Linked DNA regions of Homo sapiens: region 2 is linked to region 1. The links come from fine-mapping of genetic effects on gene expression. A gene starts in region 1. The other region holds a variant in brackets. All regions are shown on one strand. Distances are between the middles of the regions.

What was found. PIP is the estimated chance that this variant, and not a neighbour inherited with it, causes the effect.
Region 2: its variant is the best candidate, but not a certain one, in a credible set for the expression of NCBP2AS2 in whole blood (INTERVAL, PIP 0.86).

Annotation. Positions count from the first base shown.
Region 1 is chr3:196,939,973-196,945,492 of GRCh38, reverse strand. It overlaps NCBP2AS2 (NCBP2 antisense 2 (head to head)), which reads right to left and starts at 2,819. Exons shown (of 1, transcript NM_001355243.2): 1 at 1,950-2,819. The coding sequence starts at 2,776. The coding sequence ends at 2,477. It overlaps NCBP2 (nuclear cap binding protein subunit 2), which reads left to right and starts at 2,965. Exons shown (of 4, transcript NM_007362.5): 1 at 2,965-3,067. The coding sequence starts at 2,990. It overlaps NCBP2-AS1 (NCBP2 antisense RNA 1), which reads right to left. Exons shown (of 3, transcript NR_046630.1): 1 at 5,366-5,520; 2 at 4,351-4,519; 3 at 2,959-3,100. RefSeq lists enhancers at 938-1,611, 2,362-2,521, 2,286-2,959, 2,742-3,041, 3,092-3,231 and 2 more.
Region 2 is chr3:196,906,533-196,911,532 of GRCh38, reverse strand. All of the region lies in intron 6 of SENP5 (SUMO specific peptidase 5), which reads right to left. Among named protein-coding and RNA genes, the nearest start is that of NCBP2-AS1, 31 kb to the left of the region's middle. The variant C/A (reference allele first, on the strand shown) is at 2,130.

The DNA.
Region 1 (5,520 bases):
CCAGGCATGGTGGCACGCACCTGTAGTCCCAGCTGCTCAGGAGGATGAGGCAGGGGAATCACTTGAACCCGGGAGGTGGAGGTTGCAGTGAGCCGAGATCGCACCACTGCACTCCAGCCTGGTGACAGAGTAAGGCTCCGTCTCAAAAAAACAAAAAAAACAGAAAAAAAGTTTTTAATTAGCTGGGCATAGTGTCATGGGCCCGTAATCCCAGCTACTTGGGAGTCCCAGGGAGGAAGATCGCTTGGCCCAACGGGTCGAGGTTGCAGTGACAGCTAGTATTGTGCCACTGCACTCCAGCCTGGGCAAGAGTTAGGTCCTGTCTCAAAAAAAAAATCAGAAATTTAGCTAGGAGCTTCAAATGACAGGACATTTCTATATACAATGGATTTCCTAATCGCAGGTCTGCTAACTGGCTGGATCGTAGTCTGTCTGTATCCCTGACCCTCTAAAATGAGGGGTAGTGAAGGGGTGGGTTGCCCCTCCACACCTGTGGGTGTTTCTCGTTAGGTGGAAGGAGAGACTTGGAAAAGAAAGAGACACAAAGTATAGAGAAAGAAAAAAGGGAGCCCAGGGGGCCGGCATTCAGCAGACGAGGATCCCGCCGGCCTCTGAGTTCCCTTAGTATTTATTCATCATTCTTGGGTGTTTCTCGGAGAGGGGGATGTGTCAGGGTCATAAGATAATAGTGGAGAGAAGGTCAGCAGATAAACACGTGAACAAAGGTCTCTGTGTCATAGACAAGGTAAAGAACTAAGTGCTGTGCTTTAGATATGCATACACATAAACATCTCAATGCCTTACAGAGCAGTATTGCTGCCCCCATGTCCCACCTCCAGCCCTAAGGCGGTTTTCCCCTAACTCAGTAGATGGAACATACAATCGGGTTTTACACCATTGCCCAGGGACGGGCAGGAGACAGATGCCTTCCTCTTGTTTCAACGGCAAAGAGGCGTTCCTTCTTCTTTCACTAATCCTTCTCAGCACAGACCCTTTACGGGTGTCACGCTGTGAGGGACGGTCAGGTCTTTCCCTTCCCACGAGGCCATATTTCAGACTATCACATGGGGAGAAACCTTGGACAATACCTGGCTTTCCTAGGCAGAGGTCCCTGTGGGCTTCCGCAGTGTTTGTGTCCCTCGGTACTTGAGATTAGGGAGTGGTGATGACTCTTAACGAGCATGCTGCCTTCAAGCATCTGTTTAACAAAGCACATCTTGCACCGCCCTTAATCCATTTAACCCTGAGTGGACACAGCACATGTTTCAGAGAGCAGGGGGTTGGGGGTGGGGTTACAGATTAACAGCATCTCAAGGCAGAAGAATTTTTCTCAGTACAGAACAAAATGGAGTCTCCTATGTCTACTTCTTTCTACACAGACACAGTAACAATCTGATCTCTCTTTTCCCCACAGGATAGGAGTCCAGGTAACTTGTTCCATGGCAGGCAGTAGTCTTTTTTTTTTTTTTTTTTTTTTTTGAGAAAGGTTCTCGCTATGCTACCCAGGCTGGTCTCATCTCAGGCTCATGCGATCCTCCTGCCTCTGCAGTGGCTGGGATAAGACACAACTGCCACCAGGCCCTGCCCCTAGGCAGTAGTCTTAATGCCTGATGGTGGGGGGTTGGGGAAGGAAGGGGTTGAGTATCAGGGTAAATGCTGCAGAGCTGTGTTAAGGACTTAGGCCCTGGAGTCAAATGCCTCTGCTCACATCCCACTCTGCAAGACTTTGGGCAACTTAAGCAGCAGCCTCTGTTTCCATCGCAGTGGCTCTTGCCTATAATCCCAGCACTTTGGGAGGCTGAGGCGGGAGGATCACTTGCGCCCAAGAGTTCGAGACCACCCCATCTCTACAAAAAAATCCAAAAAGTAATCTGCTTCCTCATGTGAATGTCGTTGTAAGGAGTGAGATAACACATAGAGTGCAATGAGCAAGTCCCAGCACAGAAGACTCATTTCATAAAATACGTGTTTATTATTACCATAGGCCTACAGTCCCCGGTATTCTTAACACATCTTGCCTGAGAAGTATCACACTCATGCCTATCAACCAGCTCACACATTTAATCAAAGGAATTTGGCAGCTGTAGGGTTGTCTTTTCATCCATATCGTCCCTGGAATTAACTGTCCTGCTATACCAGTCAGATTGAGCAGCATCTGTCAAGAGTTTCAGTCCCACTTGCAGAGGAAAGGCTCTCTGGCTTCGGTCCGTGGCTCTCCGTAGGTGCCGTGTCTGGACCCAGCCTACCTTCATCTCTGTTAGGCTTAGGGCTGTCTCCACACTGTGTCTTGTCCAATCACAAGACTTCAACGGAGCGGGCGGTCTGGCCTAGGCTCTTATGCGTGGGATGTCTGCAGGCCAACAATCCCAGTCGGGATTCGAAGCCGCGCGCAGTGCCCGGAATGACCCCTCCACATTGATGCCACTGTAGAGCCCGGAAGGAAAAGCAAGCGGCCTCGGCCCCGCACAGCCCAGGATTAAATGTTTGCGCCAGGGCCCCTCTGGCTACCTGGTGGTGGCCCCGAGCGGCCTCGGAGGCCGCGGCGTAGCTCCTGGGTGAAGGCGTCTCTAAATCGCTCAGCGCGGCGGCACAGGGAGCCCACGGGCCCAGCCGCGAGGTCCTGCAGGCGGCGGGCCGCGTCCTGGCCCCGCAGCTGGGCCTGCAGCAGTGCGAAGGCCGTGAGCTGCGCCGCACGTCGGATAGGCCGCGACTCTGACAGACGTTCCACCAGCTGCGGGCTGTGCAGCAGGGCGGCCAGCAGCCGCCGCAGCACCATCTTCTCCAAGCGCCCGGAACCCGACCTCGCCGCCCTCGTCTTCCGCCCCGCGGCGCCCGACCCGGACGTCTATGCCCCCGCGCAGCTTGATGACGACACGCCGCCCTCGGATTGGGTCCAATGAGATGCTCGCCTCCGCGCGTTTCCGCTTCCGCCATCGCGGACGCAGCCTCGTGCCGGGAGTCGCCGCATTGTGGTCCGCTTCTCTGCACTATGTCGGGTGGCCTCCTGAAGGCGCTGCGCAGCGACTCCTACGTGGAGCTGAGCCAGTACCGGGACCAGCACTTCCGGGTGAGGGAGGCCGGGCCGCGAGACGGGAAGGCCCTGGGCAAGAACGCTGAGAAACGGTTTGCTCTTGTCTCATTGTGTCGCCTCCCATTCAGCTGAAATCCGCAAACGCCAAGTGGGGCCCCGGTGCCTGCTGGCGAGGCAGGGAATGGGTGCTGGAAGGGCGCTTGGATATCACTGAAGCCACTTGCTCTGGAAGACGGGGAACTGGAGGCTCGCTTATCCCATTCGCTCGCAGCCGCTCCCTGTACCCCAGCCAGTGCCGAGAGGTTTGAGCGGTGGTGGTGGTGGCGGCTCCCGTTTCCACGGTTGTGCCTCCGCAGACGACTACGTAGCAAGGGGGAGGGGTGCCCTTCTCTCTCCCAGAGTAGGCAGAGGCGCCTTCCTGATGCAGATGCGGGGCTTTTTGCTTTGTTTTTTAAATCGGCGAAGCAGTGCCCTTCGGCGATTCGGGCCCCTTCTCTGGGAGGATGGTGTTACGGAAGCTGTACGCGGTGCGTGGGAGACACAAGTGGAGTCCTCACTCCGCCCTCGGGGAAGCTTCGGAGTGGGGAGGTGGACCCGCCAAGCTCGGCACTTTGAGGGTGTTCGGATGTAAAGATCGGAGAATTGCTGGATTTCAGAAGAGGGAAATTTTTAGTCCGGACTATATCACAGTATATTTTGTGGAAAAAGGGGAGGCAGCAGATATTCAAAGTAGACTTTTCAGTATCAGCGGAGGTAGGGATGGAATACGGTTGGGGGTTGGCGGGGCGGGACTCATTAACCCAATTATTTAGTAAACGTTTATCGAGTGCTGTCGCCAAATCCTTGTGCTAAACCCTAGAGGGAGAGGGAAGACAGTTTCTGCGCTCTGCGAGCTCATAATCCCCTGTAGTGAGGATTCAGAAAAGGGAAAAATCCCCTTGTGACTGGGAAAGGAAGGGGCGCATATAGCAGAGGGTAAGTGTGGAGAATGTGTGAAATGTGTTACTAGAGTAGGGAAAGGGAAATTTTGTTTGACGCTAAATTAGGGAAGCTCTTAGATTTATTTAGTCAAGGCTGGGAACGGTGGCTCACGCCTGTAATCCCAGCACTTTGGGAGGCTGAGGCGGGTGGATCACGAGGTTAGGAGTTCAAGACTAGCCTGGCCAAGATGGTGAAACCCCGTCTTACTAAAAATACAAAAATTAGGCGGGCGTGGTGGCAGGCGCTTGTAATCCCAGCTATTCGGGAGGCTGAGGCAGGAGAATCGCTTGAACCGGGGAGGTGGAGGTTGCTGTGAGATCGCGCCACTGCACTCCAGCCTGGGCAACAGAGCGATATTCCTTCTCAAAAAAAAAAAATTTATTCAGTTAATGTATTTTATTTTTTGAGACAGAGTCTCGCTTTATTGCCTAGGCTGAAGTGCAGTGGCGCAATCACGGCTCACGCAGCCTCAACCTCCTGAGCCTAAGTGATCCTACCCACCTCAGCCTCCTGAGAAGCTGGGACCACAGGCTCGCGCCACCACATCCAGCTAATTTTTTGTAGAGACAGGGTCTCCCTGTGTTGCTCAGGCCAGTCTCGAACTCTGGGACTCAAGCGATCCACCTGCCTGGGGCTTCCCAAAGTGCTGGGATGCCTAAGTGCCAGGCATGATTTGCACTTCTACCACTTTTAGTTACTACTTTAGACAGTTCCACATCCTGACCATTTTGAACTTAAAGCATCCTGTGAGATGAAAACTGGAACCTTCTGACTTTGTCTATTATTCATCTCCTCAGTCTAAACCTGTAGCTTTTTTTAGATGCTAATGCCATACTGTCATGTGGAATTTCTAGCATTCTGTGAATGGAATCCATATTAATATACTTTAAGCACTTACACCACAGTTATCTTAAACTGTAGGCTATTTATTTGGATCTTACTTACATGTGTGAGAAAAGTAGAAAAAGAAGATGCCTCCTTTCCATGTTCACAAATCAGTAACAGCAGTAAAATGAAAGGAATTTACTTTCTCTAATGTCTCACTCCAAAGTTCCGAAAACCTCTTTTTAACATACAATGACTATTGTCCTGTGGACTTTTTTTTTTTGAGATAGAGTTTCACTCTTGTTGTCCAGGCTCAAGTGCAGTGGTGCAATCTCAGCTCCCTGCAACCTCCACCTCCCAGGTTCAAGCGATTCTCCTGCTTCAGCCTCCCGAGTAGCTGGGATTACAGGCGCCCGCTGCTACCATGCCCAGCTAATTTTTGTATTTTTAGTAGAGACAGGGTTTCATTCACTATGTTAGCCAGGCTGGTCTCAAACTCTTGACCTCAGGCGATCCACTCGCCTCAGCCTCCCAAAGTGCTGGGATTACAGGCATGAGCCACCGCGCCTGACCCCGATGAGCCATTTTGGACCCAGGGCTTTGTCTGTCAGGTGTGTTGGATGAAGCCCAGTTATATGCTTAAGTCTCTGGCTTCATCCTGTCATCCCAATTTGGAAGCCCAT
Region 2 (5,000 bases), 34 kb after region 1:
CAGGCTGGAGTGCAGTGGCGCAATCTTGGCTCACTGCAACTTCCACTTCCCAGGTCAAGCAATTCTCCTGTCTCAGCCTCTCGAGTAGCTGAGACTACAGACATAAATGTCTTCTTTTGCGAAGTGTCTGTTCATATCCTTTGCCCACTTTCTGATGGTTTATTTTTCTTGTAAATCTGCTTAAGTTCCTTGTAGATTCTGGATATTAGATCTTTGTCAGGTGGGTAGACTGCAAAAATTTTATCCAATTCTATAGGTTGCCTGTTCACTCTGATGATAGTTTCTTTTGCTGAGCAGAAACTCTTTAGTTTAATTAGAATCCATGTTGGCTTTTGCTGCAATTGCTTTTGGTGTTTTTGTCATGAAGTCTTTGCCCACGCCTATGTCCTGAATGGTACTGCCTAGGTTTTCTTCTAGGGTTTTTACGATTTTGTGTTTTACAATTAAGTCTTTAATTCATCTTGAGTTAATTTTTGTATAAGGTGTAAGGAAGGGGTCCAGTTTCAGTTTTCTGCATATGGCTAGCCAGTTTTCCCAGCATCATTTATTAAATAGGGAATCCTTTCCCCATTGCTTTTGTCGGGTTTGTCAATGATGAGATGGTTGTGTATGTGTGGTGTTATTTCTGAGGTCTCTGTTCTGTTCCATTGGTCTATATGCCTGTTTTGGTACCAATACCACGTTGTTTTGGCTACTGTAGCCTTGTAGTATAGTTTGAAGTTAGGTATGTGATGCCTACAGCTTTGTTCTTTTTGCTTAGGATTGTCTTGGCTATACAGGCTCTTTTTTGTTTCCATATGAATTTTAAAGTAGTTTTTTCTAATTCTGTGAAGAATGCCAATGGTAGTTTGATGGGAATAGCATTAAATCTATTAATTACTTTGGGCAGCCAGGAGTGGTGGCTCACATCTATAATCCCAGCACTCTGGAAGGCCGAGGCAGGCGGATCACGAGGTCAGGACATCGAGACCATCCTGGCTAACACGGCGAAACCCTGTGTCTACTAAAAATACAAAAAATTAGCTGGGCATGGTGGTGCATGCCTGTAGTCCCACCTACTCGGGAGGCTGAGGCAGGAGAATTGCTTGAACCCGGGAAGTGGAGGTTGCAGTGAGCCACGATCATGCCACTGCATTCCAGCCTGGGCAATGGAGCGAGACTCCATCTCAAAAAAAAAAAAAAAAAAAAAAAAAAAAAGATTACTTTGGGCAGTATGGCCATTTTCAAGATACTGGTTCTTCCTATCCACGAGGATGGAATATTTTTCCATTTGTTTGTGTCCTCTCTTACTTCCTTGAGCAGTGGTTTGTAGTTCTCCTTGAAGAGGTCCTTCACATCCCTTATAAACTGTATTCCTAGGTATTTTATTCTCTTTGTAGCAATTGTGAATGGGGGTTCATTCATGATTTGGCTCTCTGCTTGTCCATTGCTGGCGTATAGGAATGCTTGTGATTTCTGCACATTGATTTTGTATCCTGAGACTTTGCTAAAGTTTCTTATCAACGTAAGGGGTTTTGGGGCTGAGACGATGGCATTTTCTAAATATAGAATCATGCCATCTGCAAGAGACAATTTGACTTCCTCTCTTTCTATCTGAATACCCTGTATTTCTTTCTCTTGCCTGATTGCCCTGGCCAGAACTTCCAATATTATGTTGAATAGAAGTGATGGGAGAGGGCATCCTTGTCTTGTGCCAGTTTTCAAAGGGAATGTTTCCAGCTTTTGCCCACTGATATTGGCTATGGGTTTGTCATAAATAGCTCTTATTATTGAGATATGTTTGATGAATACCTAGTTTATTGAGAGTTTTTAAATGAAGGGATGCTGAATTTTATCGAAGGTCTTTTCTGCATCTACTGAAATAATCATGTGGTTTTCGTCACTGGTTCTGTTTATATGACGGATTATGTTTACTGATTTGCATATGTTGAATCAGCCTTGCATCCCAGGGATGAAGCCAACTTGATCATGGTGGATAAGCTTTTTGATGTGCTGCTGGATTTGGTTTGCCAGCATTTTATTGAGAATTTTTCGCACCGATGTTCATCAGGGATATTGGCCTGAAATTTTCTTTTTTTGTGTCTCTGCCAGGTTTTGGTATCAGGATGATGCCGGCCTCATAAAATGAG[C/A]TAGGGAGGAGTTCCTCCTTTTCAATTGTTATGAAATAGTTTCAGAAGGAATGGTATCAGCTCCTCTTTGTACCTCTGGTAGAATTTGGCTGTGAATCCATCTGGTCCTGGGCTTTTTGTGGTTGGTAGGCTATTAATTACTGCCTCAATTTCAGAATTTGTTATTGGTCTATTCAGACATTCCACTTCTTCCTGATTTAGTCTTGGGAAGGTGTATGTGTCCAGGAATTTATCCGTTTCTTCTAGATTTTCTAGTTTATTTGTGTAGAGGTCTTTATAGTATTCTCTGATAGTAATTTGTATATTTCTGTGGGGTCAATGGTGATATCCCCTTTATCATTTTTTATTGTGTCTATTTGATTCTTCTCTCTTTTCTTCTTTAGTTTAGCTAGAGGTATTTTTTGTTAATTTTTTCAAAAAATCCAGCTCCTGGATTCACTGATTTTTTGAAGGGTTTTTTTGTGTTTCTATCTCCTTCAGTTCTGCTCTGATCTTAGTTATTTCTTGTTTTCTGCTAGCTTTTGGATTTGTTTGCTCTTGCTTCTCTATTTCCTTGTTGTTGTTTTTGTTTGTTTGTTTTGAGACAGAGTTTCACTCTTCTTGCCCAGGCTGGAGTGCAATGGCGCAATCTCAGCTCACCACAACCTCCACCTCCCGGGTTCAAGTGATTCTCCTACCTCGGCCTCCCAAGTAGCTGGGATTACAGGCATGTGCCACCACACCCAGCCAATTTTGTATTTTTAGTAGAGATGGGGTTTCTCCATGTTGGTCAGGCTCATCTCAAACTCCTGACCTCAGGTGATCTACCCGCCTCAGCCTCCCAAAGTGCTGGGATTACAGGCATGAGTCACCACGCCCAGCCGCTTCTCTAGTTCTTTTAATTGTGATGTCAGGATGTTGATCTGAGATCTTTCCAGCTTTTCGATGTGGGCATTTAGTGCTATAAACTTCCCTCTTAACACTGCTTTAGCTGTGTCCCAGAGATTCTGGTACATTGTCTCTCTGTTCTCATTGGTTTCAAAGAACTTCTTGATTTCTGCCTTAATTTCTTTATTTACCCAGGAGTTATTCAGGAACAGGTTGTTTAACTTTCCTGTAGTTGCCTTTTTTATTTGTTTTAAATTGAGACAAGGTCTCAGTCTGTCACCCAGGCAGGAGTGCAGTGGCGTGATCAGGGTTCACTGCAGCCTCGACCTCCCAGGCTCAAGTGATCCTCCCACCGCAGCCTTCTGGATAACTGGGACCACAGGCTGCCACCATGGCCAGCTAAGTTTTTTAAATTTTTTATAGAAACGGGGTCTCGCTTGGTTGCCTAGGCTGATTTGAAACTCTTGGGCTCAAGCAATCCTCCCATCTACAGTAATTTTAGGCCTCCCAAAGTGTTCAGACTGCAGATGTGAGACACAGCGCCCAGCCTCTTTAAATGTCACTTCATTTTCAACCTTTCTTTTTCATATTATTTTATGTATACTTCTTATATTCAGCATAAACCTGGGTTTTTTTTTTTTTTACTTAACCCAATCTCAGAGGATCTACAGCAAGCTTGTCCAGTCCACAGCCCACGGGCAGCATGCAGCCCAGGACGGCTCTGAATGCAGCCGAACACAAATTTGTAGACTTTCTTTTATGAGATCTTTTTTGCAATTTTTTTTGTTTTAGCTCATCAGCTATTGTTAGTGTTGGTGTATTTTATGTGTGGCCCAAGACAACTCTTCTTCTTCCAGTGAGGCTCAGGGAAGCCAAAAGATTGGACACCCCTGATCTAGAGGAAGGAATAATTTAGTTTATTATTTAATGAAACAACTCACATATTTGACTTTATTCTTTCACTCTCATGTTTATCATTCAGATACTTTTCCATGAATGTATATTTTTTGCCCACACTGCTTGTAATTTTTCCCACCCCAAATGGAATATAAGCATCTTCCATTATCTTTTTTTTTTTTTTTTGAGACGGAGTCTCTCTGTCGCCCAGGCTGGAGTGCAGTGGTGCGATCTTGGCTCACTGCAAGCTCCGCCTCCTGGGTTCAGTCTCCTGAGTAAGTGGGACTACAGGCATCCGTCACCACGCCCGGCTAATTTTTTTGTATTTTTAATAGAGATGGGGTTTCACCGTGTTAGCCAGGATGGTCTCTATCTCCTGACCTCGTGATCCGCCTGCCTCGGCCCCTCAAAGTGCTGGGATTACTGATGTGAGCCACTGTGCCCGGCCCATCGTTCATTATCTACACAGCTTTTCCTGCTTAAGTAGCATCCAATTATATGACTGTACATTTTAAATTTGAACAATCCTCTACTAGTTGTCCTACATTTTTCTAATGTAAATACAACCATAGGCCGTCCAGTCATACAAGTCACATACTTGGAAGTCATCTTTCACACTTCCTTGTCCTTCATCTCCATAACCAACTTATCACCAAATCCTGTTAATTTTACTTCCTACATCACACTCATCTTCCATCTCTCCTGCTATCATTCTACTTCAAAGTACCATGAATCTGAAATGGTCTCCTGTTCTGCCCACATCAACTTTGCTCCCATACCCATCCATCTTCTTCAGTACTGTTAGAACAAAGACTACAAAGTGGATAATGTCACTAAAAACCATTCAATGGTTTCCTATTACATTTAGGATAAAATCCAAAATACAAACCTCAAGGCCCTGATCTGTGGATCAGGTACACTTCATGCCACTGTCTTCTTAACTCTCTGCATTTCAGCTACACTAGCCTTTTCCCATTCTTCTACCAGATACTTATTCCTTCTGCCTATGTTTCACATACCCCTATTCTCCATTTACCTAGTTAACTTGTATTCATCTTTGATATTTCTGCTTAAATATTACTTCCTATGAGAAACATTCCCTTACCC